7 linked regions of the Homo sapiens genome follow. The protein of the gene in region 1 interacts with the protein of each later gene in a biochemical or structural test. Each region holds a gene or a part of one and is shown on either strand. Other genes may lie near its edges. The genes, in order: PARD6G, MAP2K2, DOCK4, ARHGEF16, SLCO1C1, CYSLTR2 and ABCC4.

Region 1 (4,324 bases):
TTTTCTTTATAAACCACCCAGTCTGTAGTCTTTCTTTACAGCTATGTGAGAATGGACTAATACATATACCAACTTCCAAAGCAATTTCCTTGTATCACTATATGGCTTTCGTTTAACTGAATACATAAGATAATTTAATCATGTCTAATGCAACTAGTAAGAGTGTTTTTGAATTTTATATAATTCTCACTTCAGTATCACCGCAAAGGGATACAGCTCACTTTCACCTCAGGAACGCCAGGCCTCCCTGAAACAGCATAGGCTAAATGTTAGTTCTACAATGTTTCAGTCTTAACTTTATTTAGCAACTAACCTAAAACACATCTCAGTTTCTCAGTACGTTCAATAATTTTCTCAAAATATGTCTTAGCATGTTAACTTGAAATGAAAAATAAATTCAGACTGTTTCCTGAGAGAAAACAAGGTTGATTTGTGTTTAATGATGAGGCTGACTTTGCCAACCCAGCTATATGGTAAACATGCTTCATATGTTGAATGAGCTCCAAAGTTTTGACAAAAAGAGATGTGAAATGTGACATGACAAAAGCATTGTATTTAAAAATCATATTGGTATTGGGTACTAAATATTTTTATTTCCCCATGATATCAGATTAAACAAGAGTCCTCTAAATGAAGGAATTAGCAGGTATAATTCATTGTCACATACTTCTTGGTAAAGTCCTTCCAGTATACTTACCAGAAACTGAAACAGTGAATGGCTCTAATGACCAGGCAATAAACCTTGCAAGTCAAGTAGTTTCCAATTACTTGCTTTTGACAAAATATAAAGTTGTCCTAACTGAACTGTCAGCTAATTATCAAAATAATTTTGAGAGACCACCCTATTATTTTTGTCACACAACCTGTTGAGAGTTCAAAGAACTGAGCTGTGCTTAGGGGCCTTCACTCTCATCTACCTGAGTGTGCAAATGAAGCTTCACAGTGTTGACACCCAACAATAAAAATTGCAAAACAATTAGTGCCAGCCTACCTCATTTATCAATAAATACTTAACAGTAAATGAAAGATTCTTCAAATGTTTATTTGGATGGCTAGTGATTATCAATAAATACTTAACAGTAAATGAAAGATTCTTCAGATGTTTATTTGGATGGCTAGTGATTATCAATAAATACTTAACGTAAATGAAAGATTCTTCAGATGTTTACTTGGATGGCTAGTGATTATCAATAAATACTTAACAGTAAATGAAAGATTCTTCAGATGTTTATTTGGATGGCTAGTGATTATCAATAAAGACTTAACAGTAAATGAAAGATTCTTCCGATGTTTATTTGGATGGCTAGTGATTATCAATAAATACTTAACAGTAAATGAAAGATTCTTCCGATGTTTATTTGGATGGCTAGTGATTATCAATAAATACTTAACAGTAAATGAAAGATTCTTCCGATGTTTACTTGGATGGCTAGTGATTATCAATAAATACTTAACAGTAAATGAAAGATTCTTCAGATGTTTATTTGGATGGCTAGTGATTATCAATAAATACTTAACAGTAAATGAAAGATTCTTCCGATGTTTATTTGGATGGCTAGTGATTATCAATAAATACTTAACAGTAAATGAAAGATTCTTCCGATGTTTATTTGGATGGCTAGTGATTATCAATAAATACTTAACAGTAAATGAAAGATTCTTCCGAAGTTTATTTGGATGGCTAGTGATTATCAATAAATACTTAATGTAAACGAAAGATTCTTCAGATGTTTACTTGGATGGCTAGTGATTATCAAATTGCACAACTATGTTCCAATCACCATTTGATAATACTTGTTAATAACTCAATCTAGAAATTTACTATAACAATCTATTTCATTTATAATTGTGGTAAAACACACATAAAATTTACCATATTAGCTCTTTTTAAGTGTACAGTTCAGGAGTGTACATTCACACTGTTATGCACCCACTCTCTAGATTGCTTTTCATCTTGCAAGCTAGAACCCTATACTAGTAAACAACTTAAAAATATTTTTAACAAATAGAGCCCCAGGACCACAAGAGAAAAATATTTGAACTTCAATTTATACATATTTTTTGTTGCAGAGAAGAGTAACAGGGGTAACGAAGCATAAGTTATTAGAATAAAATATTAGGACAAAAATCTCTTGAGGGAGTAATGGGAAGAAGAAATCAAAGAGAAAAAGAAACCATGTATAATTTCTGATTAGAAAAGAGCTCTTCAGAGTCAGAAAAGTGGCAAAAATAAGAGTCTGTTTATCCTATTTTAAAATGCATGATAGTGGTATCAAATCACTGCAGCATTTAGATTTCACTGTATCAAATCACTGCAGCATTTAGATTTCACTGTATCAAATCACTGCAGCATTTAGATTTCACTGTATCAAATCACTGCAGCATTTAGATTTCACTGGCTGTATTTAGAAGATCATGCACCAAAAACTTTATTTGTAATGGAATATTTACAGCATGCTGTAAATTACATCCTTTGCAAACTATTTATATTTACTAAAAAAAATTCAGGTACCAACTTAAAAATATATCATCCCCTTTTATAGTGGTAGTTTTTCAAAATTCTTTCAGGCTTCATGTGACATTTGAAGACCACAACATCAGAGTTCAGGGATCACTATGAAAATGCCTAAACCACCATTAAAGGTTAGCAGGAGACTTGGCACTCCCTAATATTTTCATTGTTTTTCATGTGGGTGTTTGTTCGTATAGCAGGACTTACAACAGGACGGCTGCTTCAACATCTGCTGGGCTTCATTCATTCACCTACTATCCCGCACATAAAATGCCTCAAAGGGAGCCATCCTATCCCGGGAGGTCATCTCCTCACTCCAAACCAGTGACCAATTTCAATGAAAGATCAATACTCAAGCCAGGCATGGTGGTATACACCTGTAGTCCCAGCTACTTGGAGGCTGAGGCAGGAGGATCACTTGAGCCCAGGAGTTCCAGGTCAGCCTGGGCAACATAGCAAGACCTTGTTTATGTTAAAAAAAAAAATCAAATTTCCTAAAAAAGATTGCATTGCTGTGCCTGGCCTAGGTTAGTAGCAAGTTAATAGATAACCCCATCAAAAAGTCCACATTGGCCAGCGATGGCTGATGTCTGTAATCTCAGCACTTTGGGAGGCCAAGGGAGAGTCCGAGACCAGTCTGGCCAACATAGTGAAACCCCATCTCTACTAAAAATACAGAAAAACTTAGGCAGGCGTGGTGGCACACGCTTGTAGTCCCAGCTACTTGGGAGGGTGCTCCAGGAGAACTGCTTGAACATAGGAGGCAGAGGGTGCAGTGAGCCAAGATTGCACCACTGCACTCCAGCTTGAGTAACAGAGTGAGACTCCATCTCGAAAAAAGAAAACAAACAAACAAACAAAAAAAAAAAACACACCTTTCCCTCACCAGTACCCTGACACTATGAGCTGTATCATTTCCCCTTAAAAGGACCCATGGTTCCGAGGCAAAATGGCTAATTCCAGGTATATGGCAAGAAATGTATGTAAGCCTATGAATCCCATGTTTATTTTTAAAGAATAAGATTATTTGTTATTGGGAAATACACAGGTGTGCAAATTCTTATTCTTCAATGCTTCTAGCTAAATGAACCCTCATTCATTATTTAGATAATGATTATTCTATTTTGTAGTTGACCCCAACTATTATTCCTACAACAGGATAGTAAAAAACGGGGTTGGGGGAGATTTCATCTTTTAAAATTATTAAAAATTATCTCAAATACAAAATACCAAGATCAATAAGCAAAAGCGTATCAGCATCTGGCTAGGTGTGGTGGCTCACACCTGTAATCCCAGGACTTTGGGAGGCCAAGGCAGGTGGATCGTTTGACTCTAGGAGTTTGATACCAGCCTGGGCAACATGGGGAAACCATGTCTCTACAGAAAAGTACAAAAATTAGCCAGGCGTGGTGGCACACGCCTGTAGTCTCAATCACTTGGCAGGCAGAGGCAGGAGGATCGTTTGAACCTGGGATGTGGAGTCTGCAGTGAAGTGAGACTGCACCATTGCACTCCAGCCTAGATGACAGAGTAAGACCCTGTCTCAAAAAATACAAAGTGTATCAAAAGCTTCTAAATGCAAATCATTTTTATTTTCTTTAAAATGTATTCAATGATAACATCATTATACTATAAATAGAAAATAAGAAATGTCCATCTATCACCTATATCATATCAATCTCTATTAATCATATCTATCTATTCCCCCAACTCTAACTTCTTATCATAATTTTGACCCTTTTCCTTCCAGAAGAAGGGATAGAGCTCGAGAAGTGCTTGTTGAATGAATAATACCTTGGAGCCAGTTGCGAT
Region 2 (4,324 bases), on another chromosome or scaffold:
TCTTTATTTTGCATTTTTTTCCTTCTTTTTTTGTGGGGGGTAGGGGGTACAAGGTCTCTCTCTGTCACCCAGGTTGGAGTGCAGTGGCATGATCCTAGCTCACTGCAGCCTCCACCTCTTGGGCTCAAACGATCCTCCTGCCTCAACCTTCCAGGTAGCCGGGACTACAGGTGCACCAGCACGCTTGAGTAGCTTTTTAAGTTTGTTTTTTTTTTTTTTTTTTTTTTTGAGACGGAGTCTAGCTCTGTCGCCCAGGCTGGAGTGCAGTGGCACAATCTTGGCTCACTGCAAGCTCCACCTCCCAGGTTCACGCCATTCTCCCGCCTCAGCCTCCCGAGTAGCTGGGACTACAGGCGCCCGCCACCACAGCCGGCTAATTTTTTGTATTTTTAGTAGAGACGGGGTTTCGCTGTGTTAGCCAGGATGGTCTCGATCTCCTGACCTCGTGATCCGCCTGCCTCTGCCTCCCAAAAGTGCTGGGATTACAGGCGTGAGCCACCGCGCCCGGCAAGTTTTTTTGTAGATATGGGATGGCACTATGTTTCCCAGGCTAATCTTGAACTCCTGGGCTCAAACGATTCTCCCGCCTCAGCCTCCCAAAGTGCTGGGATTACAGGGGTGAGCCACCGTGCCCAGTGATGTATTTATATAAAATGGCAAGCACTTGTTGGTGACTGGAACTTAGGAACAGTGGGGCTGGCTGCTTCCCTGGGGTCTGAACCTATTACTGGATAACTCGGGGCAAGAACCCAGTGGACAGTGGGGCCTCATGGGATGGGGAAAGGAGAGCCAGTGGCTTACGGACCTCGTAGAGGTGCCCCTTGGCCTTTCTGGGGGTCTCGTCCTATCTGCTGAAGAATGCCCGTCTTGTTCTACTGTAATGGAAACTGGACATGTCCATCAGTAAGGGAGTGATTAAAGAATGATATTTGGCTGCTTTGCAGTGGCAAAGTGAAATCCACAATGGTGTACTGAATGGGAGTATCCCCACAGTACAACACTATTCATGTAGTGGAGGGGTGGTTGTAGAAAATAAACATAGCATGGGCTGGGTGCAGTGGCTCACGTTTGTAATCCTAGCACTTTGGGAGGCCAAGGCAGGCGGATCACGAGGTCAAGAGTTCAAGACCATCCTGGCCAACATGGTGAAACCCCATCTATACTAAAAATACAAAATTAGCTGGGCATGGTGGCGCACGCCTGTAGTCCCAGCTCCTCAGGAGGCTGAGGCAGGAGAATCACATGCACCCGGGAGGCGGAGGTTGCAGTGAGCCGAGATCATGCCACTGCACTCCAGCCTGGCGACAGCAAGACTCCATTTCAAAATAAAAGAAAAATAAAATAAACATAGCATTGGCCCATTCATTTGTTTATTGTATTTTCAAGTCAGGGTCTTGCTCAGTTGTCCAGCCTGGAGTGTACTGGTGCTGTCCTCCCACGTCAGCCTCCCGAGTAGTTGAGACCACAGGCGTGAGCCACCATGCACAGCTAATTTATTTGCTTATTTGTGTAGAGATAGGGTCTCTCCATATTGCCCAGACTGGTCTTGAACTCCTGGCCACAAGTGACCCTCCTGCCTCGGCCTCCCAAAGTGCTGGGATTACAGACATGAGCCCATTTCGATGTTGTTTTAAACTCTGGCTGGGCAAGCATGCTTTAATCCCAGTGCTTTGGGAGAATCCCATGAGCCCAGTAGGTCGAGGCTGCAGTGAGCTATGATTGAGCCACTGCTCTACAGCCTGGGCAAGAGAGTGAGTCCCGAGTCTGTGTTTCCAAATACACAGCAAGATGCGGGGGCCAGGTGCTCACTCCTGTGATCCCAGCACTTTGGGAGGCTGAAGTGGGAGGACCTCTTCAGCCAGGACTTCGAGAGCAGCCTGGGCAACATGAGGAACCCCCGTCTCTACAAAAAATTAGCAGGACATGGTGGCGCGCCTGTACTCCCAGCTACTTGGGAAGCTGAGGTGGGAGGACTGCCTGAACCAAGGAGGTGGAGGCTGCAGTGAGCCAAGATCACAGCACTATGCTGCAGTCTGGGCGACCCCTGCCTGAAAGAAAGAAAGAGAGAGATGAAGAAAGATCTGGAACAATATAAGTCACACTTGAGGGGGGAATGGTGGAAGTGATGCGGCGTCCAGGTTATTTATCCTCATTTGAATTTTTTATAAGAAAAATGTGTTTGCCGGGTGCGGTGGCTCAAGCCTGTAATCCCAGCACTTTGGGAGGCCGAGGCGGGCGGATCACGAGGTCAGGAGATCGAGACCATCCTGGCTAACACCAGTAGTGAAACCCCATCTCTACTAAAAATACAAAAAATTAGCCGAGTGTGGTGGCGGGCACCTGTAGTCCCAGCTACTCAGGAGGCTGAGGCAGGAGAATGGCGTGAACCCGGGAGGCGGAGCTTGCAGTGAGCCGAGATGGTGCCACTGCACCCCCGCCTGGGCAACAGAGCGAGACTCCGCCTCAGGAAAAAAAAAAAAAGAAAGAAAAATGTGTTCACCTACTACCTACGTAACAAAATTACAGTTACAAGACCATTTTAAACATCACACACACACACACACACACACACACACACACACACACACACACACACGGTAGACGTGTATGGTCATGCACAGAGTGAGATTTGGGGTCAGCAGTACACAGCTGCAATACCCCCTGCACCACATCCTGTCTCTGTGACTCAGACAAATTGCTTACCCTGCCAGACTTTGGTCTTTATAGCTGGAGATCAGCCCTTCTCAACCAGGGGCAGTTCTCCCTCCCAGGAGACACCTGGCACTGTCTGGGGATGTGTGTGGTTGTCACAACTGGGGGATGCTCCTGGCGTGGAGTGGATGGAGGCCAGGGACGCTACTCAGCGCCCTGCAGTGCCCAGGTCGGCCCCACCCCAGAGAGTGACCTGGCCCCGATGTCACAGTGGAGAAAGGCGGCTGCAGAGAGAGCGATGCTCCTGTGAGGCGTCTTCCACCAGCTCCTGAGGCTGCAGCACAGCGCTCCGCCCGCCCTCATCTCCGGGGAGAGGCTCTTTGAATTTTCTCACTAAACAAACATTGATTGCGGCCCCAGGAGAAACGAAGACGGAAGGAGCTGTGCTGGGGAGCAGGGGTTTTAGGGTTGCGTTTGGTGCGTCTGTTTGGTTTTCGCCACCCTGCCTCTTTCGAGTCGTTGGTCTCTTTCTGGTTTTTGTTTTTTTGAGACAGGGTCTTGCTCTGTCACCCAGGCTGGAGTGCAGTGGTGTGATCTCGGCTCACTGCAACCTTGACCTCCCAGGTTCAAGGGATCCTCCCACCTCAGCCTTCTGAGTAGCTGGGACTACAGGCGTGCACCACCACGCCCGGCTGATTTTGGTATGGGGTCTCACTGTGTGGCTCGGGATGGTCTCAAACTCCTCAGCTCAAGCATTCTTTTTGCTTTGGCCTCCCAAAGTGGTAGGATTATAGGTGTGCGCCACCACGTGCGGCTTTTTTTTTTTTTTTTTTTAATTGAGGAGTCTTGCTCTCTCGCCCAGGCGAGAGAGAAGTGGCACGATCTCGACTCACAGCAACCTCTGCCTCCCAGGTTCAAGTGATCTTCCTGCCTCAGCCTCCCGAGTAGCTGAGATTACAGGCATCCACCACCACGCCCAGCTAATTTTTTTTATTTTTAGTGGAGATGGGGTTTTACCATATTGGCCAGGCTGGTCTCAAACTCCTGACCTCAAGTGATCCGCCTGCCTCAGCCTCCCAAAGTCCTGGCATTACAGGCGTGAGTCACCGCTCCCAGCCCATGTCCGGCCTCATTTTAAGTAATTCTTTTAAGGTAGATTGATAAAAACTGAGAATAGAAGCAGCTTCCACCTGGCCCTGGCTCACTGGAGCTCCCGTCCTGGCACCTCCTCCTGGGCTGTCTGAGCCCTGGCCATACCTGCCCTCTCACCCTGTGTGTCTGCGTCTTCAGCCTGGAGCTGGTGGATGGAGTCACGTGTATGCTTTAGAGGTCTCAAAGCGTGTTGGGTTTTCTAGAACTGCCTTCGGCCTTTCTCTCCAAGCCTAGCTGGGCAGAAGTGGCCAGAGAGCGGCAACCCGGGCACCCCTGAGTCCCAGGATTTCTCCCCCGGCTCCTCCCACCCATGTGAATGAAAGCCATCCCAGGGAAGGCTGGGCTTTTGCAGGAGTCCTGGAGCAGCATGGTGGGGAAATCCAGGCTCCCCAGCCAGCCTCTCCAGGCTCCTCCAGCCCGCCCTCTCTAGCCTCAGTTCCACTTTCCTCTCTGCTGAGCACAGAAGAGACGCACGCCAGACGGTGGCAGTGGGAACTTGGCCTGTCACCCCTGCTGTCCT
Region 3 (4,324 bases), on another chromosome or scaffold:
AGTTATATACAAAAATACTTGAACATTTATTATAGAAAACCTCTATAACCAGCCTCAACAGCATATACCTGCTGAATGGTTTCATTAAGAGAATATAAAAAAGTGGTCACTGCCTTCCAGGTAAGCTACCAACAAAACAAACATGGTTAAACTAAAATGAGCTTCCCAACAAAAGAGGGAAAATATTTAACAGTATGATTTAAAATACAGTTCATATCTATTGTCAATTGAGTGTTATAAACAGTCAGTAAAAGAAAAAACAAAGATATAAAATACATTACTACATACAAGGTGCTTTTTTCACACTTCTACAACTGGCATTAGCATCCCTATCTAGACCTAAGATGCTATGTTGCAATATTCAAGCTAGAGAAGTCTACAGCAATCCTCCTTCAAGAGAAAGACGACAGGTCAGCTAAGACAAACTCCACTGGTAAAAGTGGAGAGTCGTGAGGAATTTTTTATTTTGTGCAGGACTGAAAGTTAATGCCCTTGCCTTTTATAAGTCCTTTTGCCATTTAATCGTGCTAATACATTTTCACTAAGTTTTTTTTTTCTTCACTTAAGCTATTAATTTAATACTGTCTGTATTGATTCCTGAATTCTTGCTAATGGGGCACAGTCATTTGTGCCTCATTAATACTTCAGCATTTGCTCTTGTTCAATGACAAATTTTATATAGGAAACTATCAAGAAAGGAAGCGCAAAATTCAAGTAAACATTTCTTCTGGAGCCTCTTGCTTAATCTAGCTGATTGGAACTCTGAAGCAAATTGCACCTTGAAAAGAAATACAGTAGATACCACGGTGTCAGGGTAGTAAGGGATTTAGCTACCAATTCACAAAATAGAATTTTACGAATGTAGACAGCAGTCAAACAGCAAAAGCAACCTTAAAGAAGTATTTTGTTTCAAGAACAAAACAATTTCCAGTCCCAAGCTTTGCAACCCCTTAAGTATACTGTCTTGCTCGCCTGCTTGAACTTTAATTCTGATGATCTGCACTGATAAACCTTGCCTTATTTACAGAAGTCTTCTAAAATAAGGACCACTGTGTTAGGATGTGCACTGACTTAATAAGCTTTCTCCAAGTATCAAGTATTCAGTAAAAACGATACAACATTGTCACACATTGTATCGTTTGACAATATCGTATTGGTTTTAAGATTAAACTATATAAAAAAAAGTGAACATAAAAAGGTACAAAAGGAGTCTTTATCACTATTTACCACTTCCAAATGAGAAACGTTTTAATGAAATTCAGCCATACTTCATTTAACATCTGGCGTTTTAGATCAGCAACTTTTAATATTGTGCAACATGATATTTAATAAGCAAGTTTTAATTCCATTCATCGAAGGAGCTGAGTAAGTTATTAAAGTGCCTACACTAAATGTCTTCTCATCATACTTCTTATTTTGTAAACGGGCAAAGAATGCATCGCAGGTACATAGAAAAGTGACTTATAACTGAGAGACCTTGCGGGGCAGGGGCCTGGGCCGCGGGCCGGGGTCAGTCCTCCGGGCCCCATTCTCCAGGTGGCTGGATCGCGCTGCCAGAGGCTTGGGGGGCAGCGCGGGCGGCTCCGACGTGACGGGGATGGAGAGGCTGTGAGGTAGCGGGACGGGGCGCCGCAGAGTCCGCTCGTAGACGCTGTACGGGGGCGGAGTCTTGCTCTCCTTGCGCACTGGCTCCTCCCCGCCGTAGCTCGGCACGGGCACCGGCACTGGCACCGGCAGGGGGGCCGACTGTTCATTCACCTGATTTTCAAAGCCTGAGGTTTCCGACGTGCTGCACCGGCTGAGAGAAGAAATCCCACTGCTGTAGCTGCCCGACAAGACAGGGGAGTTGGAGATGAGTCCTGGCGAGTGGTACTCCACTGGAGAGGGGGTGAAAGACTGCACAGAGCCCTGCTCCGGGGAGAAGGAAACGAGAGGGAGACACAGCATTGAGTCGTGAACGCAGATGCGCTGAAATGTACGCCCCGACGCGGAGGCCCCGGCCCCCAGCACCCCCAAAGCCGGCTGCAGCAGGAGATGCAGCCTTTAAGGAGGTGATTAAGGTAAAAGGCCATTATGGTGGATCCTAATCCAAGCTGACTGGTGTCCTTATAAGAGACATTTGGACACACAGGGAGACGTCAGGAATGCGACACACACAGACCTTGCAGGAAGGGCGGTCTGCAAGCCCAGGAGGGAGGCCTCGGGGAAACCAAGGCTGCCACGCATTGATCCTGGACTTCTACCTGCCAGAATTGAGAAAATACATTCCCAGTGTCTAAGCCACCCAGTTTGTGGTATTTTGTGAGGGAAGCCCGAGCAGACGAATACACTCACACTCAAATTTGAGTGTTGTCCTTTGTAGCACTGAAAATGCACACCAGACGTTTATCTGCGAGGGCCACCAGTCCTCGAGTTCAGTTCACCGCCCAGTTTACTCCTTATCATTTTCAGATAGAGGAGAAAGGAGCTGGGCATGGTGGCTCACGCCTGTAATCCCAATACTTTAGAAGGCCGATGCAGGGATCACTTGAGGCCAGGAGCTTGAGACCAGCCTGGGCAACATGGCAAAACCCCATTTCTACTAAAAATCCAAAGGGTTAGCTGGGCGTGGTGGCTCATGCCTGTAATCCCAGTTCCTCTGGGAGGATCACCTGAACCTTGGGAGGTTGAGACTGCAGTGAGCCGTGGAGCCACCAGTGCACTCCAGCCTGGGCAACACAATGAGACCCTGTCTCAAAAAATAAATAAAGGTATCCACCAAGATAATCTGGAGGCACACATTAGTCCTATAGTTTGGAAGAGAGGGAACTGGCCAAAAACCCCAAAAACCTAAAAACGCCATAAAACCTTTGGGGGCGCTATTCACTTTCCCAGCTCAGCAGGGCATGCTGCAGGCCAGGAGCCAGGGCCGCTGAGCACACTCAGCTCAGAAGACCCAGAGAGCTCAGGAGGAGGAGCAGAGGCACCCGAGGTTCTGCACCTGATTTCTCCAGCCATCACTCCAGACTCCAGACTCCTGAGCTGAACTGGCGAACTGGCAGCCCTCGGGGCTGTAGCCTGTGATGTGAGCTGTTTCCTCAGCAGTTTTTTAAAAACCTAATTTAGTTAATTTTTAACATTTCAAATTTCACATGAAACTCCAGAATTCTGGCAGTTCATAAAGAACTAGGAGTTCTGGCCACAATGGCACACATTCTCTTAATAGAGATAATCTTTAAAAGCTGAGAAGGGCTGTCCCTTTTCACTTTGCCAGTCCCCACTATGCCACGTGGGGACTACACCCGGCCTCCTTCATTTGTGTCAGCTGTCTGGCCCCATTTGGCATCTGAGTTTGTTACTTTCCCAACTAGTATCCCAAGGAAAACGAGTCCTAAGATAGATGCTCTGTGAAAAGAGGGTTCCGCTGGGAAATGCTGCACACTGTATACTCCTTGTGTATATTCAAAACATATTCGCATTTTCAAGGCTTAGAATAAAGGAATACAAATAATTTTGTTCAGTCCAGTGTTTTCCAAACTTACTTGACTATAGACCTTTTCTCCCCCGCTTATTACATAATGTCCTGGAAAACTAGTGTTCTATGGTATACACTTTGAGAAATGCTATCTTCTTAAGCTAACTTGACTTTGGTTTCTCTTTGTAAACAAAATAACGCTGGTAGATACACATCCTGTCATTTAGTAGGAGCCTAACATTAAGGCCAATTAAGAGTTCCCAATTCACTGCTACCTCTGTCAAAAGTTAGACCTGAAATTCAAAATATGGCAGGTCAGCTCAGTCTTCGCTGTAGGGTTAGACCCACAGTTTGATGGCTGGCTGGGGTAAAAAAAAAACCCAAAACCCCACTAAACTCTTATCAGTTAAGGCAGCACACTGCAAGGCTAGTAACATGGTAGCAGTGTGCCCCCTAATGTAACCCAGGAGGTATAACACAAATGTTCGATCTATGTTCTCTTCCTTCAAACCCTACATATAAAGACATGGCTTCGAACTGCATATGGCCAGTAAAAATGTACACAGGTCTGCTGAGAGACAGTATATACCAGCTTGCTAAGACTATTTTATAGCTATTCAAACATTTTTAGCTCTTGGGTTCTTTTTAATGTTTAAGAATTAATCTCTTAAGACTTATTTTCTTACTACCCAACAAAATTTAAGTTGAAAAATACAGATGATAATTCCATAGCAACGTGTGGGAGCTCTGTGTGAGTAAGGGCAAATGTAAAAGTGCGGAAAAGCCATGTTGCTTTCCTTTCTATCACATCGAGGTGACAGGCTATGACTTCCAGAGTGAATGCTGTCACAGGTACTTCATAATAACAGC
Region 4 (4,324 bases), on another chromosome or scaffold:
GAGCTCTGTGTCCTCCGGTCCCCTCTGCCTCAGGCAGCTGCATGTTTGCCTCTGACCTCCTCAGGGCTTTAGATTGCTGCCCTGGGGCGGGAAGCTCCGGCCTCCTCCCCCAGCTGGGCCCCCGACAGCTCCTGGCATTCACAGTGAACTGTCTGGGGAATCATCGCTATTTGGGGTAAGCGGCTGGTGGGCGGCTCTCCCAGACCTTTCTCAGAACCTGCAGTCACCCATATGAGCTGCTGACCGGCCTGGCCGGCCTGGGCACGTACGCATGTCGTGGCCCTGCTCATCCAGCAACCGAGGCCTCCCATGACCTGCTGGGTCCTCGTCCACGGGGACTGCAGCTCCATCTGCTGGGGATTCTCAAGGGCAAGCAGCTGTCAGGACACTCTCCCTGCAGGAAGCGTGGCTCCTGCGTGGGTGGCAGGCCCAGTCGGGCCCCGTGAGCAGAGGAGGAGGGACTCCCGCCCACCTCCACGCTGGGTAAGGGAGTCCTCCGAAGGACAGAGCTCTTGGGCTGGGAGGACCTCCTGTGGCGGCGGCCTGGAGACACGGATGTGGTCTCGGGTTGGGTGCTCTGAGGGTCTGCAGGATGGACGAGGCTCCAGCCACCGCCTCACACAGCAGGTGACCATCGTGGGTCCAGCCAAGCCCAGCCTTGGTGGCCGTGGCCGCCCATGGGGGCAGAATCCTGGCAGCCCTGGCCTAGCTCTGACCAAGTGTTAACTCCCTTCATCCTGATCACCCTGGACCAAGGCCTGGGTCATGGGGAGGTGAGGGGCTGGTAGCCCCTTCCAGGGAGTCTGCCAAGAGCCCACAGCTGGCCCCCCCCCGGCCTTGACTGTTCCCTCAGAACGGGGTGGGGGACCTAGTGAAAGTAAACAGTTCATGAACCCAGCTGGGAGCTTGACCAGCAGAGCTGCCTCGGATTTGGGACTCATCCTTGGAAGGGGTGGCCCCAGGCATCGCCCCTCTTTGCTCTTGTGCCTGTCCCCTGAGTCTCCGTCCTTGAGTTTCTTCCCAGGGGCAAGCTGGTGCGGCAGCGGGGGCCCGGGCCTGTGTGGAGGCCCAGTCGTTTTAGCTGGAAGGAGCTTGAAGGGCGAAGGGCACCAACTGGACAGGGCACCAGGACAGGAGGTCCAAATGGGCCCGCCTTTGGGGACAGTCCCTGGGGCTGCCCCTGGACAACAGAGGGACGGCACCAGTGCGTGGGATCGTGGCAGGGGGCTCTGTAAGGAGCCCCAGGCCTCTGACCACTTCCCACCCGCCCTCCCTGCTGTCCAGCATCCCAGGTCCGGGTCCCGCCCCAAGTGCTTGCTGTGTGCTGCCTCTGGGAGCTGAGCTCAGCTCCTGCCACGTCCATGTATGTGTGAGTGTGCATGCAGATGCATGTCTGTGTGTGCACACGTGGGGCCCGACCACCAGGCCCGTGGCACCCTCCTCACCCCTCCTTGCCTTCAGGTTCTTCGAGGACCTGGAGCAGCGGCACAAGGCCCAGGTGCTGGTCGAGGACATCAGTGACATCCTGGAGGAGCACGCTGAGAAGCACTTCCACCCCTACATCGCCTACTGCTCCAACGAGGTCTACCAACAGCGCACGCTGCAGAAGCTGATGTGAGTGGGCGGCCCCGAGGCCCGCAGGGTGGCTCAGGAGCATCCTGCACCCTGGTCTCCCAAAGCACATTCCTGCTCCCAGCCCAGCTTCTGCAGGTCCTGCCTGATTTTGGTACAGGCTGGCCATGCAGAGCCTGGAAGGACAGCCTTGTCCTCTTGCAGAAGCAGCAACGCCGCCTTCCGAGAGGCCCTGAGAGAGATTGAGAGGCGGCCGGCGTGCGGGGGCCTGCCCATGCTCTCCTTCCTGATCCTCCCCATGCAGCGGGTGACCCGGCTGCCCCTCCTGATGGATGTAAGTCCACGGCCTGAGGGTGGGGCCGGGCATACCATCCTGGGGTCCCACGGCCAGAGCCCTGCCCCGGATGGAGCATTACGTGCTTGTGACCTTCTCCTCCAGGCTTGGCCTATGATATTGTAATAGTTACGATCCTAAGATGGCTTTATTAACCAGGATAACTTTGTGGTCGCCGCCACCCACAGAGCTCACTGTGCCGGGAACTGTTCCAGCCCTTGGCGGATTTGTGTTCACTTACTCAATGGTTCATGAGGTTCAGGCACACTGACGAGTTGGAACTGGCATCACCCAGAGCCCTGCTGAGCCTCCTCCCAGCCCCCACCCCACCAGTCCTCCTAGACGTGGTAGCCCTGTCCCTGGCACCTACTCTCCCTGTTCTGTGGACGCAGAGAGGGGCTCAGAGAGGCTCACCAGCATGGGCTGTGTGTGTGGGATGCCAGCCCACAGGGCAGAGGGTATATGAGGGTGAAAGGTGTACACACACACGCACACATGTATATACAGTGTACACGCACTCAGGCACGTATGTGCCCATGTGCACACAATGCATATGTATGGATGCACGCCAGTACACACATGCATGCACACTTGCACACACTGCATTGCACCGATGCATGCACATGTGCACACAATGCACACGTTTGCATACATGCACACACAGGCACTGCACACACATGCACCCGGTGCACACACATACACGTGGATGCACACACATGCATGCACATGGTGCACAGGCATATTCACACATGTGCATGCTGCCCATACACACAGCCCCGCACATGGCAGGACTGAGCTAAGCTTCCTGAGGCTACACATGGCAGGGTTGCCCAAGCCAAACAGAACCTCAAACTCCTGGGGGCCCCAGGGATGTGCAGAAATGGGGCTGCCAGGGGGCCTCCACTGACGATTCCCCAAGTTGGATGGAGATGGCCGAGGATGGGAAGGGAAGGGTTCCAGGCAGGGGTGCTAGCTCCTGTTCCCACTCAACCTGGCCTGACCTGGCAGAGCTCCAGGTGGTGCAGAGGCCGTTCAGGGGCTGTACGTGCTGTGGGGCCCTGCAGGAGCCCCCTGGGGGCAGCTGTTGACCACCCTGCAGCCCCACACGGGGTCTGGCGTTGGTGGGAGCCTCCACACCTGGGATGCCAGAGGGGACTTTCTGTCCCATGTCTGTTGTCCATCCAGACGCTCTGCCTCAAGACCCAGGGCCACTCCGAAAGGTACAAGGCTGCCAGCCGTGCACTGAAGGCCATCAGCAAGGTAAGATGGGGCCTGGCCCCAGCCCTACCCGAGTCCTGTACCCCGACCCTGTCCCCACCCAACCCCACCCTACCCGATGGCATAGGGCTGGCTTCCCCTACCTTCCAGGGCAGCGAGTGTTCTCAGATTATCCATCCCAAGCCTTTCACAGCGCTGACAGGGAAACTGAGGCCCAGAGGTTCCCAGATTATCCATCCCAAGCCTTTCACAGCGCTGACAGGGAAACTGAGGCCCAGAGGTTCCCAGATTATCCATCCCAAGCCTTTCACAGCGCTGACAGGGAAACTGAGGCCCAGAGGTTCCCAGATTATCCATCCCAGGCCTTTCACGGCGCTGACAGGGAAACTGAGGCCCAGAGGTTCCCAGATTATCCATCCCAGGCCTTTCACGGCGCTGACAGGGAAACTGAGGCCCAGAGGTTCCCAGATTATCCATCCCAGGCCTTTCACGGCGCTGACAGGGAAACTGAGGCCCAGAGGTTCCCAGATTATCCATCCCAGGCCTTTCACGGCGCTGACAGGGAAACTGAGGCCCAGAGGTTCCCAGATTATCCATCCCAGGCCTTTCACGGCGCTGACAGGGAAACTGAGGCCCAGAGGTTCCCAGATTATCCATCCCAGGCCTTTCACAGCGCTGACAGGGAAACTGAGGCCCAGAGGTTCCCAGATTATCCATCCCAGGCCTTTCACAGCGCTGACAGGGAAACTGAGGCCCAGAGGTTCCCAGATTATCCATCCCAGGCCTTTCACAGCGCTGACAGGGAAACTGAGGCCCAGAGGTTCCCAGATTATCCATCCCAGGCCTTTCACAGCGCTGACAGGGAAACTGAGGCCCAGAGGTTCCCAGATTATCCATCCCAGGCCTTTCACAGCGCTGACAGGGAAACTGAGGCCCAGAGGTTCCCAGATTATCCATCCCAGGCCTTTCACAGCGCTGACAGGGAAACTGAGGCCCAGAGGTTCCCAGATTATCCATCCCAAGCCTTTCACAGTGCTGACAGGGAAACTGAGGCCTAGAGCCAGTGGAGCTCTCACACAGTTGATGAGCCCGTGGCACGGCTGGTCCAGGGCAGGCACTGTGGGCAGCCAGAGGCTGGCTGGGCAGGTGTCCTGGGCACACTGTGGGCCGTGTGGGCTGTGCCAGGGCCCTGTAGCACCA
Region 5 (4,324 bases), on another chromosome or scaffold:
ATAAAGTATAGGATGTGATGACTGAAATTACAAGGAAATACAGAAACATTTGGGGACATCCATTGTCTTTCTGACATCTTCCCACTATGCCTGAGGAATTTCCGGATTTAGAAGCTGCAATTCCCACACAAGTGCAGTTGTAAAATATCTGTAACACGATAGGGAAAAGTCCAATTATTTCAGTAACATTTAAATAAAGTTAAAGACAGTTATGTTAAAAATGTTTACCGTAGCCATGCATTATGTAAACAATGAGGAAATATTCTTTTATTTTTTTGTATTACAGTATATTGAGCAAAGCAAAATCTATATAGATACAACATTTCATTATCTAAAGAGCAGATGACTATCTACAAACTACTAATCCTGTACAACAATCTCCCAGCAAATCCTGCCTAATCTAACCATACCTTACCTCCTTCGCTACCACTTCCAATGCTAAGTAACCATGATTTCTTGCCTAGATTGTTACAATGCTCCCTTTATGCGCAACTTGTTTCCAATCTTATCTAGCTAGTATCTGCTTTCCACCCAGTAAGTAAAGTGAACCTTTAAACATGGCAGTCAGACTGCATCACTACCCTCAACCTGCCAGTGGTTTCTCATCATACTTGCATGAAACCCCACATCCTTATAACAGTTTACACTTTCTCCATCATGTAGCACCTGGATGCCACTCTAATCTCACCATTCAGTGATCTTCCCTCTCTTCTTCTGTGTAAGCCACACACATGACCCTTGCAAAGGCCCCATTTTGCCCTTTCCAAACATCCCCTCAAACCTGGCAAGTTCATCCATGCCTCACGGCCCTGCTATTTTCTCTGCCCGGGCAGCTCTTCTCTTCGGTGATTACACAGCTGGCGTCCATACTTTAGTTCTCCGTTTAGAGGTTTTAATAGAGACCTTCTATGACTATCCATTTAAAAAAAAAAACAAAAAAAAACAACTCCCATCTCTCCATCTTCTTATTCTAATGTATGTCTTTTTTTTACAGTGCTTCTTACTACCTATCAGGATATCCTGTATTTACTTATTTTTAAAACATACTTTCCCAACAGAATGTAACCTCCATGAAAGCAGAAACTGCTGCTTTGTTATTATGCAACTGGGGAATGGAATAGACTCTCATTTTAGGCATTTGATAAAACTTAGTTAAGTAAATGGGAACAATTTGAGGATATGACATAATTTACAGTGGCTATGAGAAAAAAATAATTCTGGTGCATAAAACTCAACTAAATTTTGACTGAAGAGAGACAATTTGTATAACCCCTCAATAGTTTATTTCTGTAAATTTTATTTATGAATGCATATATATAATGTTATCATTTTTAATCACAAAAGAGTTTGTGAGTTTTTAGACCATAAATAAAGCTGGCATTTACTTTTCTAGAAAGAGTGGCAATATAGATTTTTTGTAATGTCAAGTTGAAACCTTTGAATCTTAATTCTGGTCGCTCACTAGATAAATGAGTTAAGCAAGTCCTTTGTATCTCAGTGCCTCAGTTCTCACATGAAGAAAATACTGAAAATAATGCAAATTATTTCAGGACCATGAGATTTAAATGTAATTTTGTTCTTTTAACACCAATCTTTAACCTTTCCTTGTAATGTCTTTTATAAATGGTAGCTCTCATTACAAAAAAACCTTCATGCAGCTGTGAGCAAAAATAACAGTAGCTGAAAGAAAAATAACAAAGGAAGAAAGCAAAGAAAAGAAAAAAAGAGAAGCATGAAAACATGTTTCAGATGAGTAGGTAGTCTTATTCATTGTTGCTAGAAACCAATCCTTTCTGCTGTAAATAAGTCAAAATAATAATACAATGAACAGAGTAAATTAACAAACTTAACTGTATATCTGTGGATATACAGCCTAAGTATTCATATCCAGTTGATAAGGATATATAAATAAATGAGATACATGGGTGGTCTAATTTTCTGCCCTCTAGGATTGTCAAATAAAGGCAAATTTAATCAGTCACAAATAGAAAGCAGTCTCAGAGAGCAAGGATAAGGAAGAGTCTGTTTGGGACAGGAATGGAAAGGTGTGCTGAGAAGGGTGAATCTGTTAATGATTGAAGTACTTTACATCCTTCACAATTGCTTTCTGTTAAGGATTGAATATTTTCCCAAAATTCATATGTTGAAATCCTAACCTTCAATGTGATGGTATTTGGAGTAAAGCATTTAGGAGGTAATTAGTTCATGAGGGTGTAGCCCTCATGAATGTGATTTTAGTGCCCTTATAAGAAGAGACAGGAGACCTGTCTCTCCCTGTCTGCTCTCTGCCATGTGAGGATAAAAGGTGAAGATGGTCATCTGCAAACCAGAAAGTGGGTCCTCACTAGGAACCAGTTCTGCTGGCACCTTGATCTTGGACTTCCCATCATCCAGAACTATGAGAAATAAATGTTTGTTGTTTAAGCCACCCATTCTATGGTATATTTGTTATAGCAGCCTGGACTGACTAAAATAGATTCCTACCTATATTTCCTACCTCATCTCCCTCTTCTGCCCTATGGAAACCCTCCATTCCAGCCCACCTGCCCTTTCATTATTATACAAATTGGCTTGATTTTCCAAAGTTGTCCTAGAACCATCAACCTCCTCATTATCAGATCCCTGACCCCAAGGTCTAGAATCTCTGGAGCTAAGCCTCCTAATACTGGCCTCTATTTGTTCATTCCCTAAAACCTCCAAGGACCACGGATCTTAGGGCCAGGGGACATGGATCTGAAAGCATATCTTATTATGATGATCATACGACAGACATTCTAATTCAGGGCTAACACTTCTTATAAGCAAAATGAGAGAAATAGACTACATAATTACAAAATCTCTTCCACCCTATTTGATGACTCTAATTCTCACCCTAATTTTTTCAGCAACTCCAGTACCACTAGGAATGGTTATAACATTTTCTTTTTCTACAAAAAAGGACCAGGCAGAGGTAAGAGGCAAGCCTCCTACTAGTAGTGGTCTGCTGTGAGCCCCCATAGAGTTTTGTTGTTTATATTGTAACAGGACCATCGCCATATACTTGAGAGGTGATTTCTTACAATATTTTTTCCACTCCTGTTGGAGGTTTGACAACCAGCAAGACAAGCTGATACATATGTGATTCCATTTTCACCGCACATGGGTTCCCATTTTGTCTCTGAACATTTGCATCTTGAGTTGCAATCTGAAAAGAGAGCTCGTTCATGATAAGAGACAGGTTTGGTTCTGAAAAGAAATATAACAATATAAAATATTACCTCTTAGCAGGTAGCACCCGAATATTTTCAAAAAATCAATGTTCTTGAGTGATATAAATGATACTATGAACAAAATTTGCCTTTTAGAAACACAGTTGTCATCAGAAATGGCAGCTTCTGGTCATGAAATGTGAGTTTACTAATAAACAGCTTTCTCTTGAAAGTTATCTTTAGAGGTTTACAAATTCACATGATGTCCAGTTCTTAGCTTATAGCTTTCAGTCTACAGCCTCTAGGATCTTCTAATATACTTCTGTGCAAAGGTGTATAAAAATAGCTAACAAGGTAGAAAAGTAAACTTTTAGAGCAATTTATGACACTACTTCAATGCATCACAGGTGGGGTGTGTGTGTGTGTTGTGTGTGTGCAAATTTCATTCAGAATTGTTGTCTAAGTATGAGTGGAATGGATATTACTAATGGTCCAGTAAAAGGAAAAATAGCCAATCAGTTATCAGTTAATTCTCTTTCAGTGTTTGCAGGAGTTACATGTCCTCTTGCATGTGTGTAACCAACAAGTGCATTCCCAGTTCATTCAACCTTTCTCCTGTGTATCCTCCCAGTGTATAGTGCTCTTTCATATCTTATAGCATCCTTTCTTACTCAAATTCACAAGTAAGTTCAATGACTTACCCATTTATTTGTTGATAAAATTTTACTGGAAGCCTACTAAGTGCTAGCTCCGGGAGAATAGGAGATGGTTACAAACATTAATGAGACAAAATTTGCACCCCCCCCCAAAATTGGTTTTTTTGAGTTATTTCACAAAATTGTGATTGCATTCTTTCTTTTCTCCTTCATTTTTTTTTGTTCTCTGCCATTCGCTTTTATATTTATCCTTCATCTCTCCCAGTATTCTCTCTCCCTCACTTTTTTTTCTGTCACCTGAATGGCCTAATCCTTCTGCTTTTATCCTTTTTTTTGCTATTCATATTCCTCTACTCTTCTCAAAAGGAACTTTTGCAATGGTATGTCATTTCTATCTGCACCATATGTGCCATTCATTGGCCCTCCATACTTCATTTTTTCTGCTCCTTATTTTCAAATTTATTTATTTGCTTATTCCTC
Region 6 (4,324 bases), on another chromosome or scaffold:
GAGAGAGGGCAACATTTAGTCAAAATAATGTTTTTAAACAAAATGAAGCCATATCTCTAAGCAGCTCAGGGCTCTTCATATATGATGTTTTTGTTGAGTTGAATTTTTGTTTGTTTATTTGGTGGCTGAATGTTAGTGGTAGGATGAATGTGCAAGAGAAGCTAGCTTTTGGAGTCTATTAAAGAAGGAAACAAGGAGAATTAGTAAAGACAGAGGTGGGAAGAAGGAGGTCTGAGGTAATGCTGTACATCTTGTTCTTGAGGGCAGAGGTGTCCCCTGGCATGTTTGGATGCCAAACTTCTGCTAGGTTTCAATCCCTGCTACATCCCTGGGGATAAGTTGTTCTCTGGGAGATAACAGTAGATCTGCCAGAAAACTCTTCACCAATGGCCCAAAGTGCTGACTTCATGGTTAAGTGGCATGTGGAAATAAATGGCATTCAGAAAGCAAAGGGTCACCAGCCTGGTGGCCAATGAAGTGACTCATACTTTGGGGGCTCCTTGAGGCACTTTGTGGGTGACCGGGTAGAGGAAAAATCAGTGCAGCAAAATTCTCCAAGGCACTGAGTCCATGAAAACAAGGCCCTGTGAGATTCATTCCCCTCCATCCCACTTCCTCTGGAAGCTCAGAGACCAGCTCCGTTTCACATTCAAAATATGTCACAATTTCAGTTCCTTTTATCTGTGTTTCTGTTTTGATCTCCAAGAACTTAATTCACCTTGACTTTTTGAAAAAAAAATTCTGAAAGCACAAGACCGTTCTTGGAAGGCCAGGAAGGTCTAGAAAGCTTGGCATTTCTGACATGACATTTGGAGCCTGTTACAAATAAACTCTGAGTTGTCAGCTTGGGTCTCAAGAGTAAACTCTCAGTGATACTTCCCTGTTCTGGAGGGCCGTGTTAATTCAGCACTCTGAGGCCTCTGGGATTTTGAGGAACAAATGTGTTGCAGAATCCTCTCTGCACAACTTCAGAGAGCTTATTCTGTCAGCCTTTGCAATAACAACAGCTAACACTTAATATGGCACTTTCTCTGGTCCAGGCCCTGACCTAAGTGCCATTCATGTATTATCTCACTTCATCCTTACAACCCTATGAAGTAAGAACTATTATTAGCATTACCCCTTTCTTTTATTTATTTATTTAAATTAATCTTTTTTTTTAATTTTTCTTTTTTATTGAGACAGTGTCTTGCTCTATTGCCCAGGCTGCTCTTGAATTCCTGGGCTCAAGCGATCTTCCTGCCTCAGCCTCCCAAAGTGCTAGGATTACAGACATGAGCCACTTTGCCTGGCCGCATTACCCCCTTTTACTGATAAGGAGCTGACGCCGAGGGAGATAAAGTCATTTTCCCATGGTCATAGAGGTAGTCCGTGAACAAATCAGGATTTAAATCCTGAGGTTGCTGCTCTGTTACTGCTTCCCTGCAGCTGAGAGCAACACCTGTCATGCTTCTCACCATTTTTTATCATTAAATCATTTCTCAGCCTTGTTTTTATATATTTACTAGTGCCCTGCAAAAATTTTGCCTCCTTAATGCTTGTTCTAGGTCCCAATTCTGAGGTTTAATAATAATAGTTAACATCACTGAGCGCTCACCCTGTATGAGACAACTCACATTTATTATGCCATTTATAGATGGCATAACTGAGGCTCAGAGAAGATAGGTCACTTCTGCAAAATCTCACAGCCAGTAAGTGGCAGATGTGGCCTGCTACCTTACACCAACTGTCTCCTGTGAACACTTCTATTTATTTTAATTTATTTGTCAAATTGACAAATAATAATTGCATATTCATGGGGTATATATTGATGTTTCTATACATGTAATGTATATTGATCAGATCAGGGTAATTAGCATATCCATCATCTCAAATATTTATCATTTCCTTTTGTTGGGATCGTTCAATATCCTCCTTTGAACTAGTTGAAACTATTTAATACATTATTGTTAATTAGAGCCATCTTACAGTGGTATAGAACATTAGAACTTATTCCTCTCATCTAGTGGTAATTTTGTATCCTTTACCAAATCTCTCCCTTTCCCCCACTCTTCCAGGCCTCTGGTTTCCTCTGTTCTACTTTTTACTTCTATGAGATCAACTTTTTTTACTATTCCACATATGAGTGAGAACATATGGTGTTTGACTTTCTGTTTCTGGTTTAGGAAATACAATGGACTTAACATAATGTCCTCCATTTCCACCCTTGTTGCCACAGATGACAAGATTTCATTCCATTTTATGGCTGAATAGTATTCCATTATGTATATATACCACATTTTCTTTATCCATTCATCTGTTGTTGAACACTTAGGTTGATTCCATAACTTGGCTATTGTGAATAGTGCTGCAGTAAACATGTCAGTGCAGACATCTCTTAGGCAAACTGGTTTCAAAGCTTTTGGGCAAGTACCCACAAGTGAGACTGATGGATCATATGGTAATTCTACTTTTAGTTTCTTGAGGAACCTCCATATAGTTCTCCATGGTGGCTATACTACTTTACAGTCCCACCAACAACACATGAGTTCCCTTTACTCCACATCCTTGCCAACATTTGTTTTTTCATCTTTTTGATAATAGCCATCCTAACTGGGGTGAGATGATACCTCATCGTGGTTTTGAGTTGCAAAATCATCACTGATGATTAGTGATGTTGAACATTTTTTCATATACCTGTTGACCATTTGAATGTCTTCTTTGTGAAATGTCTGTTTAAATCATTTACCCATTTTAAAATTGAATATTTTGCTGTTGAGATGTTTGAGTACCTTGTATATTCTGAATATTAGTCACCTGTCAGATTAGTAGCTTGCAAATATTTTCTCAAATTCTGTAGGTTATCTTTTCACTCTGTTGATTGCTTCCTTTGCTGTGCAGAAACTTTCTAGTTTGATAATCCCATTTGTTTATTTTTGCTTTTGTTGCCTGTGCTTTTGAGGTTTTATTCACAAAATCATTTCCCAGACCAGTGTTCTGAAATGTGTGTCCCATGTTTCCTTCTAGTAGTTTTTATCATTTTGGGTCTTATATTTAAGTCTTTGATCCATTTTGAGTTAAATTTTGTAGAGTGAGAGGTTTGGGCCTAGTTTCATTCTTCTATAGACATCCAGTTTGCCCAGAACCATTTATTCAGGAGACTGTCTTTTCCCCAATGAGTATTCTTGGCACCTTTGTCAAAAATCAGTTTGCTGTAGATATTTGGATTAATTTCTGGATTCTCTATTCTGTTCCATTGGCCTATGTGTCTGCTTTTGTTAGTAACATGCTATTTTGGTTACTATAACTCTGTAGTGTATTTTGAGGTTTGGTGGTGTGATACTTCCAGCTTTGTTCTTTTTGCTCAGGTTTGCTTTAGCTATTTGGGTTCTTTTGTGGCTCCATACAAAGTTTAGAACTTTTTTCTATTTATGTGAAGAATGTCATGGGTATTTTGATAGGAATTGCATTGAATCTGTAGGTTGCTTTGAATAGTGTTGTCATTTTGACAATATTAGTTCTCCTCCATGAGCATGGGTTGTCTTTCCATTTGTTTGTATCCTCTTCCATTTATTTCATCAGTGTCTTGTAGTTTTCCTTGTAGAGGTCTTTCACCTCCTTGGTTACATTTCTTCCTAAGGTTGTTTTTTGTTTGTTTGTAGCTGTTGTAATGGGATTGCCCTCTTGATATTTTTTTTCCAGCTAGTTCATTGTTTGTGTAGAAAACACTACTGATGTTTGTATATTAATTTTGTTTCCTGCAACTTTATTGAATGATTTATTAGTTCTAAGAGTTTTTGGTAGAGTCTTTCTATATATGAGATTATCATCTGTAAACAGGAACAATTTGACTTCTTTCTCTTGAATATGAATGCCATTTATTTATTTCTCTTGCCTAATGACTCTGACTAGGATTTCCAGTGCTATATTGAATAAGAGTGGTGAGAGTAAGCATCATTGTCTGTCCCTGTTCTTGGAAGAAAAACTTCCAACTTTTTCTAATTTAGTAAGATGTTTGCTGTGAGTTTGTCACATGTGGCCTTTGTTATATTGAAGTACTTTCCTTCTATACCTAATTGTAAGAAGTTTCTATCATGAAGTGAGCTTAAATTTTATCAAAAGATTTTTCTGCATCTATTGAGGATCATATGGCTTTTGTCTTTCACTCTATTGATGTGATGTATGATGTTTATTTATTTGCATATGTCGAACCATCCTTGCATCCTGAGATAAATCCCACTTGATCATGGTGTATTGTGTTTTTGATATGTTGTTTGATTTGGTTTGCTAGTATTTTGTTTGGCATTTTTGCTTCTATACGTATCAGGGATATTAGCCTGTAGTT
Region 7 (4,324 bases), on another chromosome or scaffold:
ATCGATCGCTTGCTAAGAAATCTAAATCTGTTAGGTGTTTACCTTCCAACTGATGGACTATGTGGAAACTAAAGGAAGAAGGAAATCTATTATGTTCTATTATGTTCGTGTAGGATGGCAGGCTAAGGATAATGCCCGTTGATGGAGTTAGGAATTTGAGCTGCTTTCAGAGGTTAAATAACAGTGACATGTCATCTGAAAGGGAAATATTTGTTATAGAAGTTACCCCCACTGTATTTAGCATTGTGAATGAAGAGATGTTAGGAAAGCTCTTTTAATTTCTATGTGAATAATGGATCCTCATTCATGTCTTAATAAAATGTATGATTTATTTTATTCATTTAAAAATGTCTTGTGTCTATGTAAAACAGTGGGGGATTAGTTGCTTATTTAGATTAATTATCTTATGTTAAAATATAATTTGTGTTTTCTTGCAATTCAATTATTCAAGAGGTTTTCCACATGCAACTTAATACGGTATTTTTAAATTCTTTAAAGCTACTTGGGCATTTTCTACAAGGAAAAGGTAAATCATTTCTCCTATTCCTTGTTAATATCACATGTTGGTATCAAAACATACCACCTTTTTTAGATTATGGGACATAATGTAAGTAATAAGATTTGGAATATGGAGAAGATCAACTACACTTCATGATTATCTATCCTACTTCTGAGTTTTTAATAGAACTTGCAATTGAATTAGAGCCTAGAATGAAATTGTATTATACACCTGATTTTTCTTTTCTGTGCAGTTTCCATTCAGTGAGAGAAAAATAAACTATTTTAATCCTTCTTTGTCAATGTATTTTGTAAATACATTATACTTATGTAGAATCCAGATGCTTTATGGAATAAATTAAGTAACATCTTTATAAACTACCTGGCTTGCTTTAGCAACTATTGAAGAAAATGCAGAGATATGCTGTGTTCTCTAAGTGATATTTCTTTATTTCAGGTTTAACTGTAGCTACCGTTCTTTTTGGCATAGCAAGATCTCTATTGGTATTCTACGTCCTTGTTAACTCTTCACAAACTTTGCACAACAAAATGTTTGAGTCAATTCTGAAAGCTCCGGTATTATTCTTTGATAGAAATCCAATAGGTAAGTCTGACACCAAGTTTCTCAGTAAGTATGTCTTGTTAACAACACATTTAGGATCTGATTACATTTCCATCTTTGAAAATGGAAGGGATGCTGGGAAGAAAATCACTATGCATGTTGATTCATTTTCCACAAGAAACTTCACTGATATTTTTCTCCTACCAGAGAAAATCTAAATATGCGGGGGGAGGGGGGGGCATACAATCTTTTATTCCAATTTATATGTGTGTGGAAAAATAAATGAATGTTCACTTTGCAGAATGCTTTAGGAATCCATTTGCTGTGAGGCAAGTGAAGCATCCTGCATTCCCTGTAAACATGTTTAAATGTAGTTGAATAGTTGCTAAACATTGGCTGTGTTTACATAGTGTTAGGTTATGCCATTTTTCAGAGGGATCTTTGTAATCAGGAATGCTCTGACGTGAGACAGGCCGTGCATTTCTTTCTTTCATTGGGAAACCCGTTCATTTCTGGAAACACAGGGTTTTTGTACATACCCTGACTGTGAGGTTTCCCTGAAAGATAATATGTGGTTAATTAAAAGCCAAGATTGATAAAATGTAAACTCCCCTTCAAGAACAGTTTCTAACTCTGTGGTTTTGAAGTAGACTTTTGGTTCTATAATAGAGACTTTGTTGAACCTGCCATATAGATCTTCAGTAGCTTGTTTCCTAGGTATACCCAACTATACCCAGTATTTTCCAAGTGGTTGATGCCTCTGCACTATGCGCTTCTTATCTGTCCTGCTTCTGAGGCTAGCCTTCCTGACCTGGGTTCCTAGGGAGAATTAGTTGTGCCTATAAGTCCCCACCCTGCTCAGTTGAGTGGACTTGTGGGGAGGCCTGAGTGACATTGTGCAAATGATAACTGCCCTCATAGAAGCAGGGAGGTGGCCTGGAGAGAACACAGGCACAGCTTTGGCCTGGCCATTGACTAGCTTTTTGACCAAGGCCAGAGCACATAGGTGCTATTACACAGGCAAGTCTCCAAGCAGATGCTGTAGTTCAAAGTGTGAACTCAAGCTAACTACCTGGGTTCAATCCTGGTGCTGGTTACTAATTGTTATAGCTGATTATAGTTACATTCATATTCATGTCCTAGTTACTTAATTTTTCTGTGTCACAGTTTTCTTATCTGTAAAATAGGGATACTATTCATACCCACCAAATTGAAATCTTATGAGAATTAAGCATGTTAATACATTCCTAGCACATGAAACTGGGTGTAGCAACATGGTCAGTGCCTAACGAATGTTAGTGACAATGAAGCCATGTATCTGTGAACTGAATCACCTTCACTGTGGGGTGGAAATTACTCCTACCCTCTCTGTTTTACATGATTTTTGTGAAGATTAAAGAAGACTGTTCTGGAAAGCATCTTGTGTAGATTTATTTAACAAATACTTTTCAGTCCAAGCACTGTGCAACGTGCAAGGATTTGTAAACTGCAGAGACCACACAAATATCGGTCTGATTTCAGCTGTTATTAGAAAGTCATTGGAGGACCTCTGCGCTATTACAGCTGTAACGTTGCGCCACTTTGCCAGTTAATTTGAAACTACAGTCATAACATTTGGAGCATTAAGTGGGACTGCCTTTCTGTTATCACAGGCCTCGGAATGCTCATGACTACCATTAACCAGCCTCTCCATGTTTGAGACCTGTGGGCTTCTCCTCATGCTGATTTATTTATTATTCAGGGATTTGGGACCCAGTCTAAATCTTGGAGGTGACTAATCTTACAGCAGCACCTGAGTGTTTATCTTGCTTCCTCCTCCTATATCTATTAGCATGACTTTATTCCTTCAACAAAATAGAAGCCCAAATAAGTACCCCAAGAGAGGTCTACTTTGTCCAAAATGTTTAGAGGTCATGAATTATTTACTTTTTTTAGTGGTAGATGTTGAAAAAATGTAAAAATTAAAAGTTTTTTAATGGTAGAATTAAAATTTTCATTTAGATAAAATTTTTGCACTTTTTACAATGGTGAAGGATACACAAAATCTGTGAATTACGCCTCAGAATTCACATTACTGATTGTATGCACTTCAATAGTTATATATATATATATATATATATATATATATATATATATAAAATTTATTTAGAAATAAGGTCTCATTCTGTTGACTAGACTGGAGTGCAGTGATGTGATCACAGCTCACTGTAGCCTTGACCTCCTGGGCTCAAGCGATCCTCCTGCCTCAGCCTTCCAAGTAGTTGGGACCACAGGCCTGTGTCACCATGGCCAGCTAATTTTTAAAATTTATTTTATTCTATTTTGAAGAGATGGGATCTCACTATGTTACCCGGGCTGGTCTCGAACTCCTGTGCTCAAGGGATCTTCCTGCCTCAGTCTCCTCAAGTGCTGGGATTACAGGCATGAGCCACTGGACCCAGCCGGCTTTATAATATAAATAAAAATTCCCCTCTATGATAGTGAGGCAGGCATGCTCGATTTTTCAGTACTCTTAAACATACATGTTAAATATGTATAAGTATCTGGCATGATGTTGTGCCCCCTGAATTGCAGAGTGTTCTTTGAGTGGGGTAGAAAGACTGGGAAGCATGTCTGAATACTTAGTTATTAAAAGCAAGCTCTTAGAAGAGCCCCGGGGGAGTTTCCTATGAGCTCAGCATCCTGATATTCTCCCAGGTTTTAGAAAACTTAGGAAACGGGGAGGACCTCTGCTGGCATGTAGTTTCCAGTAAGCTCACCTTGGGATGGTGACTGGCACAGAAACTCCAGGTGATTCACACCGGGGGTCTGGCTAGACGTCCCTCATATCCCCATCTCCAGTGCCCTTGTGCTGGAATATTCTCAGTGACTCTGGTCTGCAGCATAGAAATGTCTTCTCCATTATTTTATGTCCACTCCCACCCCAGTGTGCCATCCCCCTCATCATGCTTCTGCCCAGATCCTCATCTGTGTGGTTAATGAATGGGCGACCCTTGCTGGTGACTCAGAGAACCAGACCTTCTGGAAGGGTCCCCCTGACTGCCCCACTGTGGTCCCAAGTTCACTTATTTGGATTTAGGGAGAAGGGGAAGGTAAACCTGGAAGGTCTGTGTTTCTTCTCAGCAGCGAAGTTTCTGTTTCTTTTTTTTTTTTTTTTTTGAGACGGAGTCTTGCTCTGTCACCCAGGCTGGAGTGCAGTGGCGTGATCTTGGCTCACTGCAAGCTCTGCCTCCTGGGTTCATGCCATTCTCTTGCCTCAGCCTC

What was found.
Region 2: the proteins of PARD6G (region 1) and MAP2K2 interact in a test that uses a peptide from one of them, tested with the Homo sapiens proteins (one large-scale study listed by IntAct).
Region 3: the proteins of PARD6G (region 1) and DOCK4 interact in a test that uses a peptide from one of them, tested with the Homo sapiens proteins (one large-scale study listed by IntAct).
Region 4: the proteins of PARD6G (region 1) and ARHGEF16 interact in a test that uses a peptide from one of them, tested with the Homo sapiens proteins (one large-scale study listed by IntAct).
Region 5: the proteins of PARD6G (region 1) and SLCO1C1 interact in a test that uses a peptide from one of them, tested with the Homo sapiens proteins (one large-scale study listed by IntAct).
Region 6: the proteins of PARD6G (region 1) and CYSLTR2 interact in a test that uses a peptide from one of them, tested with the Homo sapiens proteins (one large-scale study listed by IntAct).
Region 7: the proteins of PARD6G (region 1) and ABCC4 interact in a test that uses a peptide from one of them, tested with the Homo sapiens proteins (one large-scale study listed by IntAct).

What each region holds. Positions count from the first base shown.
Region 1 is NC_000018.10:80,205,755-80,210,078, forward strand, and holds part of PARD6G (partitioning defective 6 homolog gamma), read right to left. Parts: intron 1-4,324. UniProt on the Homo sapiens protein: Adapter protein involved in asymmetrical cell division and cell polarization processes. May play a role in the formation of epithelial tight junctions. The PARD6-PARD3 complex links GTP-bound Rho small GTPases to atypical protein kinase C proteins.
Region 2 is NC_000019.10:4,103,428-4,107,751, reverse strand, and holds part of MAP2K2 (dual specificity mitogen-activated protein kinase kinase 2), read left to right. Parts: intron 1-4,324. UniProt on the Homo sapiens protein: Catalyzes the concomitant phosphorylation of a threonine and a tyrosine residue in a Thr-Glu-Tyr sequence located in MAP kinases. Activates the ERK1 and ERK2 MAP kinases.
Region 3 is NC_000007.14:111,726,813-111,731,136, forward strand, and holds part of DOCK4 (dedicator of cytokinesis protein 4), read right to left. Parts: intron 1,909-4,324; coding exon 1,462-1,908; 3' UTR 1-1,461. UniProt on the Homo sapiens protein: Functions as a guanine nucleotide exchange factor (GEF) that promotes the exchange of GDP to GTP, converting inactive GDP-bound small GTPases into their active GTP-bound form. Involved in regulation of adherens junction between cells.
Region 4 is NC_000001.11:3,471,617-3,475,940, forward strand, and holds part of ARHGEF16 (rho guanine nucleotide exchange factor 16), read left to right. Parts: intron 1-1,461; coding exon 1,462-1,614; intron 1,615-1,776; coding exon 1,777-1,906; intron 1,907-3,091; coding exon 3,092-3,166; intron 3,167-4,324. UniProt on the Homo sapiens protein: Guanyl-nucleotide exchange factor of the RHOG GTPase stimulating the exchange of RHOG-associated GDP for GTP. May play a role in chemotactic cell migration by mediating the activation of RAC1 by EPHA2.
Region 5 is NC_000012.12:20,736,008-20,740,331, reverse strand, and holds part of SLCO1C1 (solute carrier organic anion transporter family member 1C1), read right to left. Parts: intron 3,226-4,324; coding exon 3,060-3,225; intron 149-3,059; coding exon 1-148. UniProt on the Homo sapiens protein: Mediates the Na(+)-independent high affinity transport of organic anions such as the thyroid hormones L-thyroxine (T4), L-thyroxine sulfate (T4S), and 3,3',5'-triiodo-L-thyronine (reverse T3, rT3) at the plasma membrane.
Region 6 is NC_000013.11:48,659,958-48,664,281, forward strand, and holds part of CYSLTR2 (cysteinyl leukotriene receptor 2), read left to right. Parts: intron 1-4,324. UniProt on the Homo sapiens protein: Receptor for cysteinyl leukotrienes. The response is mediated via a G-protein that activates a phosphatidylinositol-calcium second messenger system.
Region 7 is NC_000013.11:95,157,967-95,162,290, reverse strand, and holds part of ABCC4 (ATP-binding cassette sub-family C member 4), read left to right. Parts: intron 1-955; coding exon 956-1,102; intron 1,103-4,324. UniProt on the Homo sapiens protein: ATP-dependent transporter of the ATP-binding cassette (ABC) family that actively extrudes physiological compounds and xenobiotics from cells.